Homo sapiens: one gene and its partners. The protein of the gene in region 3 purifies or fractionates together with the protein of the main gene of each other region. This does not show direct contact. Each region holds a gene or a part of one and is shown on either strand. Other genes may lie near its edges.

What was found.
Region 1: the proteins of NEMP1 (region 3) and RGPD8 purify together in Homo sapiens (co-immunoprecipitation; 3 studies listed by BioGRID and IntAct, with this or other methods). This does not show direct contact.
Region 2: the proteins of NEMP1 (region 3) and RGPD2 purify together in Homo sapiens (affinity purification with mass spectrometry; 2 studies listed by BioGRID and IntAct, with this or other methods). This does not show direct contact.

Annotation. Positions count from the first base shown.
Region 1 is NC_000002.12:112,388,559-112,392,211, forward strand, and holds part of RGPD8 (RANBP2-like and GRIP domain-containing protein 8), read right to left. Parts: intron 2,512-3,653; coding exon 2,417-2,511; intron 1,690-2,416; coding exon 1-1,689.
Region 2 is NC_000002.12:87,823,544-87,827,296, reverse strand, and holds the start of RGPD2 (RANBP2-like and GRIP domain-containing protein 2), read left to right. Parts: upstream 1-1,500; 5' UTR 1,501-1,567; coding exon 1,568-1,639; intron 1,640-3,753.
Region 3 is NC_000012.12:57,068,679-57,072,331, reverse strand, and holds part of NEMP1 (nuclear envelope integral membrane protein 1 isoform a precursor), read left to right. Parts: intron 1-1,438; coding exon 1,439-1,658; intron 1,659-3,025; coding exon 3,026-3,098; intron 3,099-3,653. UniProt on the Homo sapiens protein: Together with EMD, contributes to nuclear envelope stiffness in germ cells. Required for female fertility. Essential for normal erythropoiesis. Required for efficient nuclear envelope opening and enucleation during the late stages of erythroblast maturation.

The DNA of each region.
Region 1 (3,653 bases), on a different chromosome or scaffold from region 3:
TTCATCAAAAATTTTCTTAAACGAGTCTGCAACATCCTGTAGTTTAAAACGAACAGCTAAATGCTCTACTTTTCTTTCTCCATCTGCAAAATCACATGCAGTCCACACCCATACTCTTTCTGTCCCTTTCATATTTTGCAAACTCATGTCTGGAGTTATTCTGTGATTGGCACAAAGTTTTAATACTTGGTCCCTTCTCATCACTATACGAACTTGCTTATTATCATAATTCTGTAAAATCTTTATATCACCAATGCCCCTTTCTTTCCATTGACCAACATCTTTATCATATCTGTAGATTTCTGCCCTGTGACTAAAAACAACTTGTTCATTTTCCTCACCACTGGATACTTCAACTAGATCAGGTAAAGGAACAACAGGTTCAAAGTACTGTCCATCTCTCTCTTCTTCTTGAGTAACAACAGATTCTTCATCAGTGCCAACTGAAGTCCCACTCTGATTCAACTTGGCAGGAGACTTAGATAGACTCAAAGCAGATTTAAAACTGAAGTTAGATCCTGTTGTTGACTCATCAAAGCGGAAAAGATTTTTTCTCACAGGGCTACTTGCCAATGGAGAAGCATGTACTGAGCTACTACTGACACTATCATCCAAAGCATCTTCCCTTAAGTCATAGTTATCCCATTCTAATGTGGGCCCAGTGTTTTCAGCATTGGGTTTTATTGTTGTGTCTGAGGCACCGGCCACACCTGTACCTGAACCCTTATTTTCTTCCTCAGTGACTTTTGTTTGATCATTTGTCAAAAATGTTTTGAAATCTTTCAGTCCACTCTTCATTTCTTCAGCTCTCTGTATTAACTTGGCAGCTCTGCCAGTATCTACAAGTTTATGGGGAGTTTGAAGTGGTATGTCTAACAGAAGCCGCTGGCATTCCTCAAATTTCTGCTTGAATTCTTCAGCCAGCTCTGGTGTTTTAAATTTTGCTGCCAACCGCTCTAGTTTGGCATCACCATCAGAGAAATCACTGGCTGACCACATCCATGCTCTATCTGATCCAGAGAGGGGCTTCAGGTTCATTGTAGTCGTTATCCAATGATTAGCACACACTTTTAGTACTTGTTCTCTTCGCATCAGCATTCTTAGTTTGCCATTGACCTCGTTTTTGAGAATTTTTAAGTTCCCCAAGCCCCTTTCTTTCCACTGCCTTACCTCAGCATCAAATCTAAATAGTTTTACCCCCTGTGAATACAGAACTTTTTCACCTTCTTCTCCTGTTACAAGTTCTACTTTTTCAGGCATTTGAACTACTGGTTCAAAATGGATGTCATCGCTGTCCTCAGTCTTATAGGCATCATCATCTTTCTCAAAGTCACCGGAAGTGTTTGCTTTATTGGCCATTTTACCGTATCGTGATGAGAATAATTTTTCTCCAGCACCTGAAAATCCCTTGAAATTGAGGTCTTTTTTGCCAAACTGAAATCCTTCTCCTGAAGTTGATTTTGCAACATCTGCAAATGTAAAAGTGCTACTTGTTTGGCCAAAAATCACACCACGGCCCTTCTTCCGGCCCCTAATATCCTGAGCCTGTAAGCCAGTATCATTTTCAAGAGGCTTTTCCCTTTTCTTTTCTTGATTTCCTGGTTCCGAAATGCCAAATTTAAATCCATCAGCAGACACAGGGATGGAAAATCCTTCTTTGGTTGACTTAAATTCTGTATTAGAAGAACCCTGAAACATAAATGAAGGTGAATTTTCTTGATCCACATGCCCAAAATAGTCATGAAATAAATACCTTCTTCATTCCTAAACAATTTATCAAATGATGTTAACAATAATGATGATGATGATGATGATAACATTTATTGAGCATTCATTAATGTGCCAGCTGGGCACTGTTCTAAGCACTTTACATTATTATCTCATTTTAATATCCTCAAAAACCCTATGAATTAAGGTATTATTATTATCCTCATTTTACATATAAGGCAACTGATGCACTGAGAGGTTAAGAAACTTGCCTGTGGTCAAAATAAGCAGAAGAGCAAGGGTCTAAATGCACCCCAACACTCTGTCCTCAAAGCTGTCACATTCAACTACCACTGTAATATTGAGTCTTCAATCAATTGTTATATATATAGCTGTATCAGGCCTGAAAGTACTTACCACATAGTGGGTCAGCAAGGGCATTACAGTTCTATTTCTGTTAAAACAGAACGATGAAGGATCCACCACCACCACTCCCATTTTTAAAATATTCTAAATATTCACACTTATTAACACAAAAATAAGGTGACTGAGAAGGATAATTTCTGTATTTGGAGATAAATTTAAAATATCTACATTTTAAGGGACATAAAAGTTTTAATAGTGAACTGCTCTCTTGAATTTATTTGAAGGAACCCTAAACAATTTAAAAAGAAAATAATTATAAATGTATAAATTATTCCTTTGTTACCTTTGTGGGAGTAACATTAGCTGCTGGTCTGAGAAGATACTGGGAATTATATGCTGGTGACTGACTATAATATACTGAAGGGCCAGTAGTTGCAACTGAAAAAAAAAAAAGAAAAGAAAGAAAACACTGTTAAAGTCTATACTACAGTTAAGACTATCTAGGCAAGAGCTATAAATACAAAAGCAATAGAAATTAAAGAAAGATTTAACTACATAAATTTTAAATTTCTGTACATCAAAATACACCAATCAAGATTATCAAATGACAAACTAGAAAAAAATTGCTAAATATGACATGAAGAATGAGAGAATAGCATCGCTGTGATCAACAAGAACTACCTCGCAAGCATTAAAAAAGGAATAAAGAAGATAGTAACTGTTGCCTTTTCTAAGAAAGATCAGTATGATGTGGAATTATGGACATTCAGTCACAGAAAGGACGTAAGGAACCAAGATGCCATCTGATAGTCAATGCATTTGAAGTGGGCCTAGAAAATCTGCAGAAAGACTAGGTTGTATTTTGTAAACTAAAGCTATTACTGAGAATGTTCAGCTCAAAAATCACCTGACAAATTCATGGAAAGGATGTCATAAATAACATAAAATGTGTTCCCTGGCTTAAAATAAAAAGCACATCAACACTCATACAGATGTACAAACTGTCTGCTCCCTCTGTTTGGTCTGTTTTGCCAGGAAACAAAATGACTAGAAGGCACCCATGTTAATGACAAAACTACCAATAGTCATTTGCTTGAACTGTTTTATGATAGTTTTACCAGAAAACAACCAAAAGACCTTTTATGCCTGTACATGGAAGAAGAAACAGAAACTGTGCCAAGAGGTTCCAAACAATTGCCTCTGGAAAGCACTGAAAAATCAAGACCTAGAAAAGGCTAGCCAGAAGCCCAAGTTTGATTTCGGAAACCTTACAGAGGTGAGGATAGCTATTTTGAAATTACTATGGGGAGGAAGCAGGCACAGAACACAGAACAACCTGACAGAAATGGCCCAAGAATCTTAAAGTCTTGCAAGATGTCTGTCTGCATGAAAGCAAAAAGAAAAAATAAAATATTAAATAAAAAAAAATCTTAGTCTGAAGTTTAAGTAGGGACTTTAATTGACTACTGACTCTAAACTGTGCGGCTCTAATAAATCTACTAAAAGTAATCTAATTTTTTAAAGCACCATATGAATAGACAATTTAGGAAAGAAATGTTAATAGGCCTCAAGGAACATGT
Region 2 (3,753 bases), on a different chromosome or scaffold from region 3:
TGTTACTATTTTTTTGCTAACCATAAACCTCAAGGGGTAGAGGAATATAAACATTCTCAACGGGCATCCAATACCTTTAAAATCCATTTTTTCACACACACATGCACACGCATACACACATTATTCTTTTTAACTCTTACACTTCCTGTCAATCTCATTTTTTGGAAATTAAATAGGTATACAGATAAATTAGACAAAGAGAGCACGAGAGAGAGAGAAAGAGAGAACAGAGAGAAAGTCTTTCTGAGTTTGGCATTCTAGTAGGAAGAGGCTATATTAGATTAGATTCTACTTCATTCTTTAATCCCTGCAAGCATCATTTCCACAGGATTCTTGGTGCATGGGTATTCAGCATTAGAATGAACACTTCGTGGGACTTTATGCAGCCACCTGTTCCAATACTATGCACTATTAGAAAGTTATTCCTTAAATTGAATAAAATTTTTCTACCCTATGACTTTCTTCCCTTAATGTTAGTTATACCCTCTGGGCCTACAGAAAAAAGTCTATTCTCTCTTCTGCATGACAGCTCTTCAAATATTTCAACACAACTGGCATGGTTCTCCTTAGTTTTCTCATCCCCAGGCTAAACACCCACAGAAGATTATACTGTAGCATTAATATCTCCACCTTGCATTTCTCTACACGCCCACATGTCTTCTCCTTTGTTACTTTTCTCTAAAACAGTGGGAACAATGAAAAATTATGACATATATGAACTTAATTACATAATCTCAGTCACCTCCTACTTCACTCCCCCACATAGCTTCTTTGCAGACCTTGTAGTGAAGTGCTGTAGCATTTAGAGGAAAGAAATCATTCAGGAATCATTTGTAAACCAACAAGGTTTATTTTAACCCTAAAAATCATAGAAATGTAAAAGACAAGCACATTCTAGAATTAATCATCATTCCCATTGAAGCTATTCATGGTAGCAAAGACTAAATAAATATATGAAAATATTTTATATTTTAAAAATTGTAATGAATTTACAAAATTTACAGGAGCAGATACAGTAACAGGAATCAGCTATGTTGCTACAAGTATATTTTAGAATCAGATTTCCATTTGAATTTCAATTATGCCATTTACTAGCTGTGTGTTCCTATAGACTTTACAAGTAGTATCTGAGTCACAATGTCTTTACAAAGAGAAAATAATTCTTAACTGAGATATTTACTGTAAAGATATAAACAAACCTATGTATAGCAGATTGGAACAAGTTCAGCTTATCTGAAAGCATACAAATGAAAATATTGAAATAAGCAAATGAATGGTTTACAGCACCCGCCTCGGCCTCCCAAAGTGTTGGGATTACAGGCGTGAGCCACGGCGCCCGGCGGGCAAGACACCCTCAGAGCACAGGGTGCTGCCAAGAGCCCGGCCGAGTGCAGCTCGAGCGCCGACGTCGCCAAGGATACACAGTGCTGACGCAGTACACAAGTGCGTCACAGTGGTCCTCCGCCGGCTACGTCAGTGGCTTTCAGGCGCTTTCCTGTTGGAATTGGCGACTGCTGCGGGGCTGAGCGCTGGTTTCACGCGTCTCGGGAGCCAGGTTGGCGGTGCGATGAGGCGCAGCAAAGCCTACGGGGAGCGGTACCTCGCCTCGGTGCAGGGCTCCGCCCCGTCGCCTGGAAAGGTGAGTGGATCTCGAAGAGACCGACGGCCTCGACCTGGCCGGGCGGCGGCCTCGACCTGGCCGGGCGGCGGCCTCGACCTGGCCGGGCGGCGGCCTCGACCTGGCCGGGCGGCGGCCTCGGCCTCGGCCTCGGCCGGGCGGCGGCCTCGGCCTCGGCCTCGGCCGGGCGGCGGCGGCGGCGACGGCGGCCTCGGCCTCGGCCTCGGCCTGGCCGGGCGGCGGCGGCGGCGGCGGCGGCGGCCTCGGCCTCGGCCTGGCCGGGCGGCGGCGGCGGCGGCGGCGGCCTCGGCGTAGGAGCCCGAGAAGATTAGTTGTGGCAATAAAAATGATTAAGGATACTAGTATAAGAGATCAGGTTCGCCCTTTAGTGTTGTGTATGGCTATCATTTGTTTTGAGGTTAGTTGGATTAGTCATTGTTGGGTGGTAATTAGTCGGTTGTTGATGAGGTATTTGGAGGTGGGGATCAATAGAGGGGGAAATAGAATGATCAGTACTGCGGCGGGCAGACCTAGGATTGTGGGGGCAATGAATGAAGCGAACAGATTTTCGTTCACTTTGGTTCTCAGGGTTTACTATAGTTTTTTATTTTTATGGGCTTTGGTGAGGGGGGTAGATGGTAATTTGTATTTAATATTTTTAGCTGAGTGATGAGGAATAGTGTAAGAAGTATGGGGGCAATTATGGTGGGCCATACGGTAGTATTTAGTTGGGGCATTTCACTGTAAAGAGGTGTTGGTTCTCTTAATCTTTAACTTAAAAGGTTAATGTGCGGCGGCGGCGGCGGCGGCGGCGGCCTCGGCCTCGGCCTGGCCGGGCGGCGGCGGCGGCGGCCTCGGCCTGGCCGGGCGGCGGCGGCGGCGGCCTCGGCCTCGGCCTCGGCCTGGCCGGGCGGCGGCGGCGGCGGCGGCGGCGGCCTCGGCCTGGCCGGGCGGCGGCGGCGGCCTCGGCCTCGGCCTCACCTCTCTTACACTTAGAGTCTTTTTTTTTCCCCCAAATTTAAAGTCATTTACATTAGAACCTGGGGATTTCAACGGAATATGGATTAACTAGTGAGTAACTTTGGAACATGTGAAGCTATTCTGTAAAGTTAGGTTTGAGTGAAATGACAAAACAGGGTGCTTTGGATAGAAGGTAAGGAATGGAGGGAGAAGAGGCAGTGGCTGTGAAGAATATAAAGAGGTTAGTATTCTCCCCCAGTTTGGCAGAGGCTGGCCATCTGTGAACTGCCCATGCTTTCTAGAATGTCTGAGTTTTGGAGTGTGATGATGCGTCTGTATATCATATCTTTCTAGTCTTCCATTGTGCTTTCATTTGTTAATCTTCTCTTGTTTTGCCATTTTTCTACTCCCTCACATGTGCTTTTGCCCTTCTTAAAAATATTCTTCGTCTGTAATCCGAGCACTTTGGGAGGCAGAGAGACCAGCCTGACCAACATGGTGAAAATCCGTCTCTATTAAAAATACAAAAATGAGCCGGGCGTGGTGGCAGCGCCTGTAGTCCCACCTACTCGGTAGGCTGAGACAGGAGAATTGCTTGAACCCTGGAGGCAGAGGTTGTGGTGAGCAGAGATTGCGCCACTGCACTCCAGCCTGTGTGACAGAGCGAGACTCTGTCTCCAAAAAATAAAAAAATAAAAAAATATATAATTCTTTCTCTAGTTTTTCTTTTTCCAGATGGCTTCTGTTTAGTTTTTCTATGTTCTGTCAAGTTGGTTTCTTATTCTGCAGCTGATTCCTACTTCTCAAACTCTACTTGACAGCTCTTATTTTTATTTATTTGTTTTTTAGAATAGGGTCTTGCTGTGTTGTCCAGGCTGCCATCAAATTTTTGGGCATAAATGATCCTCCTACCTCTGTTGCCTGAGTACTTAGGACTACAGGCAGGCACCTTTGACAGCTGTTAGTTTTTTTTTCTGCCCTTTACATCTATACTTCATGCTTCTGAGTAACACACACATATACTTTTGTTATTTTGAATTCCCTTTCTCCCATTTTAGACATTTTGTTTTCTTTTTTTTTTTTGAGACAGAGTCTCGCTCTATGGCCTAGGCTGGAGTGCAGTGTCGCGATCTCGGCTCACTGCAAACTCTGCCTCCGGGGTTCACGCCATTCTC
Region 3 (3,653 bases):
AGTAGCTGGGATTACAGGCATACGCCACCACACCTGACCAATTTTTTTGTATTTTTTGTAGAGATGGGGTTTCATCATGTTGGCCAGGCTGGTCTGAAACTCCTGCCCTCAGGTGATCTGCCCACCTTGGCCTCCCAAGGTGTTGGGATTATAGGCATGAGCTATCGCACCCAGCCCCCTTCTTTCTTTTTAAAGGCCTTATGCCTTCTTTGGGCTGGAAACTGTTATGTGCCTGTGAGGATGTAAACTCTTTTGCCCCACTGTTCCTATTCTGATTCTATATGAGATATTTCATAAACCCCCGAGCTGAAGAATTACTTTGGTCTCATTTATTTCATAACACTGTTAAGTCACCTGGCAAACAGGAATGTCTGGCTGTAACAGTGATTGTACAAAATAGGTCCTTTCAGAAATGTCGTAGTTGTTATAAGCATAGTTACTGATAAGGACATTTGTTGTTCACATCAAAAACATAAGGGTGGACTTGTGGATTTGTTTTTTTTTTTTGAGACGGAGTCTCGCTCAGTCACCCAGGCTGGAGTGCAGTGGCACGACCTCGGCTCCCTGCAACCTCTGCCTCTTGAGTAGCTGGGGGCCATGCCCAGCCAACTTGTGGATTTTTAAAAAAAATTCTTTAAAAAAAATGTCTGACAAGCCGGGCGCAGTGGCTCATGCCTGTAATCTCAGCACTTTGGGAGGCTGAGGCGGGCAAATCACTTGAGGTCAGGAGTTCGAGACCAGCCTGGCCAATATGGTGAAACCCCGTCTCTACTAAAAATACAAAAATTAACTGGGCATGGTGGCGCACACCCTGTAGTCCCAGCTACTCAGGAGGCTGAGGCAGAAGAATCGCTTGAATCCAGGAGGTGGCGGTTGCAGTGAGCTGAAGTCATGTCACTGCACTCCAGCTTGGGCGACAGAGCGAGACTCCATCTCAAAAAAAAAAATTATCTGATAAAAAAGTGATACTCCATCTGGGGCACATTATAACCAACATTTACTCATAATCAGTGGCTTGTGACAATGGATTGAACTCAGCCTGTCATTACGGAAAACATTTTTAGTTTTCTGGGGCAGTTTATGCCTGGCAATTTTCTTAATATTATAGACCTTTGCTTTGTGTGATCTCTAATAAATAGCTGTATTGATAACTCTTTCAGTTTGGAAGTCTTTTTTCCCTCTATGTTCTGCCCTAATAGTAGATTCAGATCATGTTAACAAGAAGGTATTCTAACAGCTGTCTCTCTGTAACATGTGCAGTGTTATTTGCCCAATTATGTTTTAGCCACTGTATTTCTATATTTCTGATAAGCTTTGTGGAAAACTGGCACCATTACTGATTTGGTTGTTAGTCTGAGGGTTTTTTAAAAAATTGTATTTGTGAAAAATTAAAATTCCTACTTCCTTTTTTCTCATCCTGATTTTATTTGTGTTACAGATCCGAGTAAATAGTTCCAGATTGGTTCGAGTCACCCAGGTGGAGAATGAGGAGAAACTGAAGGAGCTAGAGCAGTTTAGTATCTGGAACTTTTTTTCCTCCTTTTTAAAAGAGAAATTGAATGACACCTATGTTAACGTGGGTCTATACAGCACAAAAACCTGCCTCAAAGTTGAGATTATAGAGAAGGACACCAAGTACAGTGTCATTGTGATCCGGAGTAAGTCTCACCTCTGTTTTTCTGATGGATTCTGTAGTGATAAGGACTGAGTTCTGAAGGGTATAATTAGTGAGACTGAGAAGTCAGCCTAAGACAGCTCCAGTTGGGTTCTGATTATAACCCTGAGTATACCACTGCTCTAAACAGTTCATGGAGACTTCACCCCTATCAGACAGGCCTAGAATTGAAACTCCACCTCAGGAAATTCTGAGTACCTCCTTACCTGGAACTGTGAAGACTTTTATTCTTTTATTCCCAATTACATTGTGCTGCTAATGTCCCTGAGCATATATGCCAAATACTCTTAGAGTAAATCAGATAGACGTGTTCTACCTTCTGGACACTTCTAGACAAAGGTAACTGTCTGATGTGTACATGCCTACATTTAAAGACGTGAATGGTTAATAAAAATTGAAGAAAGGTAAAATTGAAAATCATTCACAAGTAAAAAGAGTATTCATGGAACCATAAATAAAGATGAAGACCACTGCAGTTTAAAACTTATTCAGTGGAACTGGGAGAAGTTTTCTCTTTTCTGAAGATGACTGAGAAAGTTTCAGGGGAGATGGATCCTGTTGAATTCTCTCTGACTTTGTTTCCCCTTGGTTACTACACAGGGTCCTGGGATGTTGTAAGTAGTAGAAATGTTTCTAGGTTTAGTATGAAATAGGTTGTGCCCTTCCATTTGTCCTAGGGTTCTTTGGTTACGTAGGGTTGGCTTGTTTTTTGACGTTCCTTCTACAGTTACTGATTCCTTCTGCTCCTGTTCTGTTTGTGGGCCTCCCGTAGAACTCTTGAATGTGAAAGCTGTGGGAGTATCTGGTATGCCACTAAGGGGCCTTTGCTAGGGCCCCCTGGTCCTGAGTGAGAGGTATTTGCGTGTAGGCTTTTCCAGCACAGTGTTCTGTAGCAAAGGGAAGTAGGTGGTATTGTTGGGCAAGAAAAGCAGCCAGTTAGAGAACAACACAAGGCCCTGACCCACAGTTCTGGGCAAATCTGCTGAGTTCCATGACTGTGAGTGACTTAAAGCTTGAAAGCCAGAGTGATAGAGACCCCTTGTGGGTGATTGCATGAATTGCTGATGGTACTGTGTCTAGCTTTGTCCAAAACGAAGCTTGAGTTTCTTTTAACCTTAGCATAGGTAGCCTAAGTAAAAGTAAGATCTTCAGGCAAATACAGGTTAGACAGAGACCTAATTATACATTGGAAGGGTGCCCAGGCTTTAGGTGAAATTTAAATGCTTTTTAGGTGGGCTGTTTGCATTTATTTTTACTGTAGCTGACCAATAGTGCCAACGTTGTCTTTTATTCTATAATACCTTAAGCAGTTTTGTTCCCTTATTAAGCAAAAATCTTTATTTATTTCAGGATTTGATCCCAAACTCTTTCTTGTTTTCCTTCTTGGACTTATGCTATTTTTTTGTGGAGACTTGCTGAGCAGGTAGGTTCCAAGGCTAGTGTGCAGAATGAAACGGCTCATACCTATCCTGCCTGCGTTTTATAGTAACTATTAAGTACTGCCATTCCCATTTCCAGGACCTTTATGGCTTGGCCGTTGCCTGCTTGGATATTTAAAAAAATACTTTAATGTGTATTATGATTTTTGTTTTTTCTTATTTGAACAATGTTGACAATAGTGAAATTCCCACATTAGGTTGGCCCATCATTAGGTTGATAGGAGTTAGCCAATACAATGAAATGGAACATCATCACCCTTTCTATTGCTAGAAGTAATGTGTTAAGGTGTCATCTTTACAGGTCCATGGGTTGATGAGTTTCATTTTGTTCAGACGTAAAGAAACAAATAGCTTCTGGGTACGGTGGCTCACGCCTGTAATCACAGCACTTTGGGAGGCCAAGGCTGGCGGATCATGAGGTCAGGAGATCGAGACCATCCTGGCTAACACGGTGAAACCCCATCTCTACTGAAAATGCAAAAAAATTAGCCAGGCGTGGTGGCGGGCGCCTGTAGTCCCAGCTACTTGTGAGGCTGAGG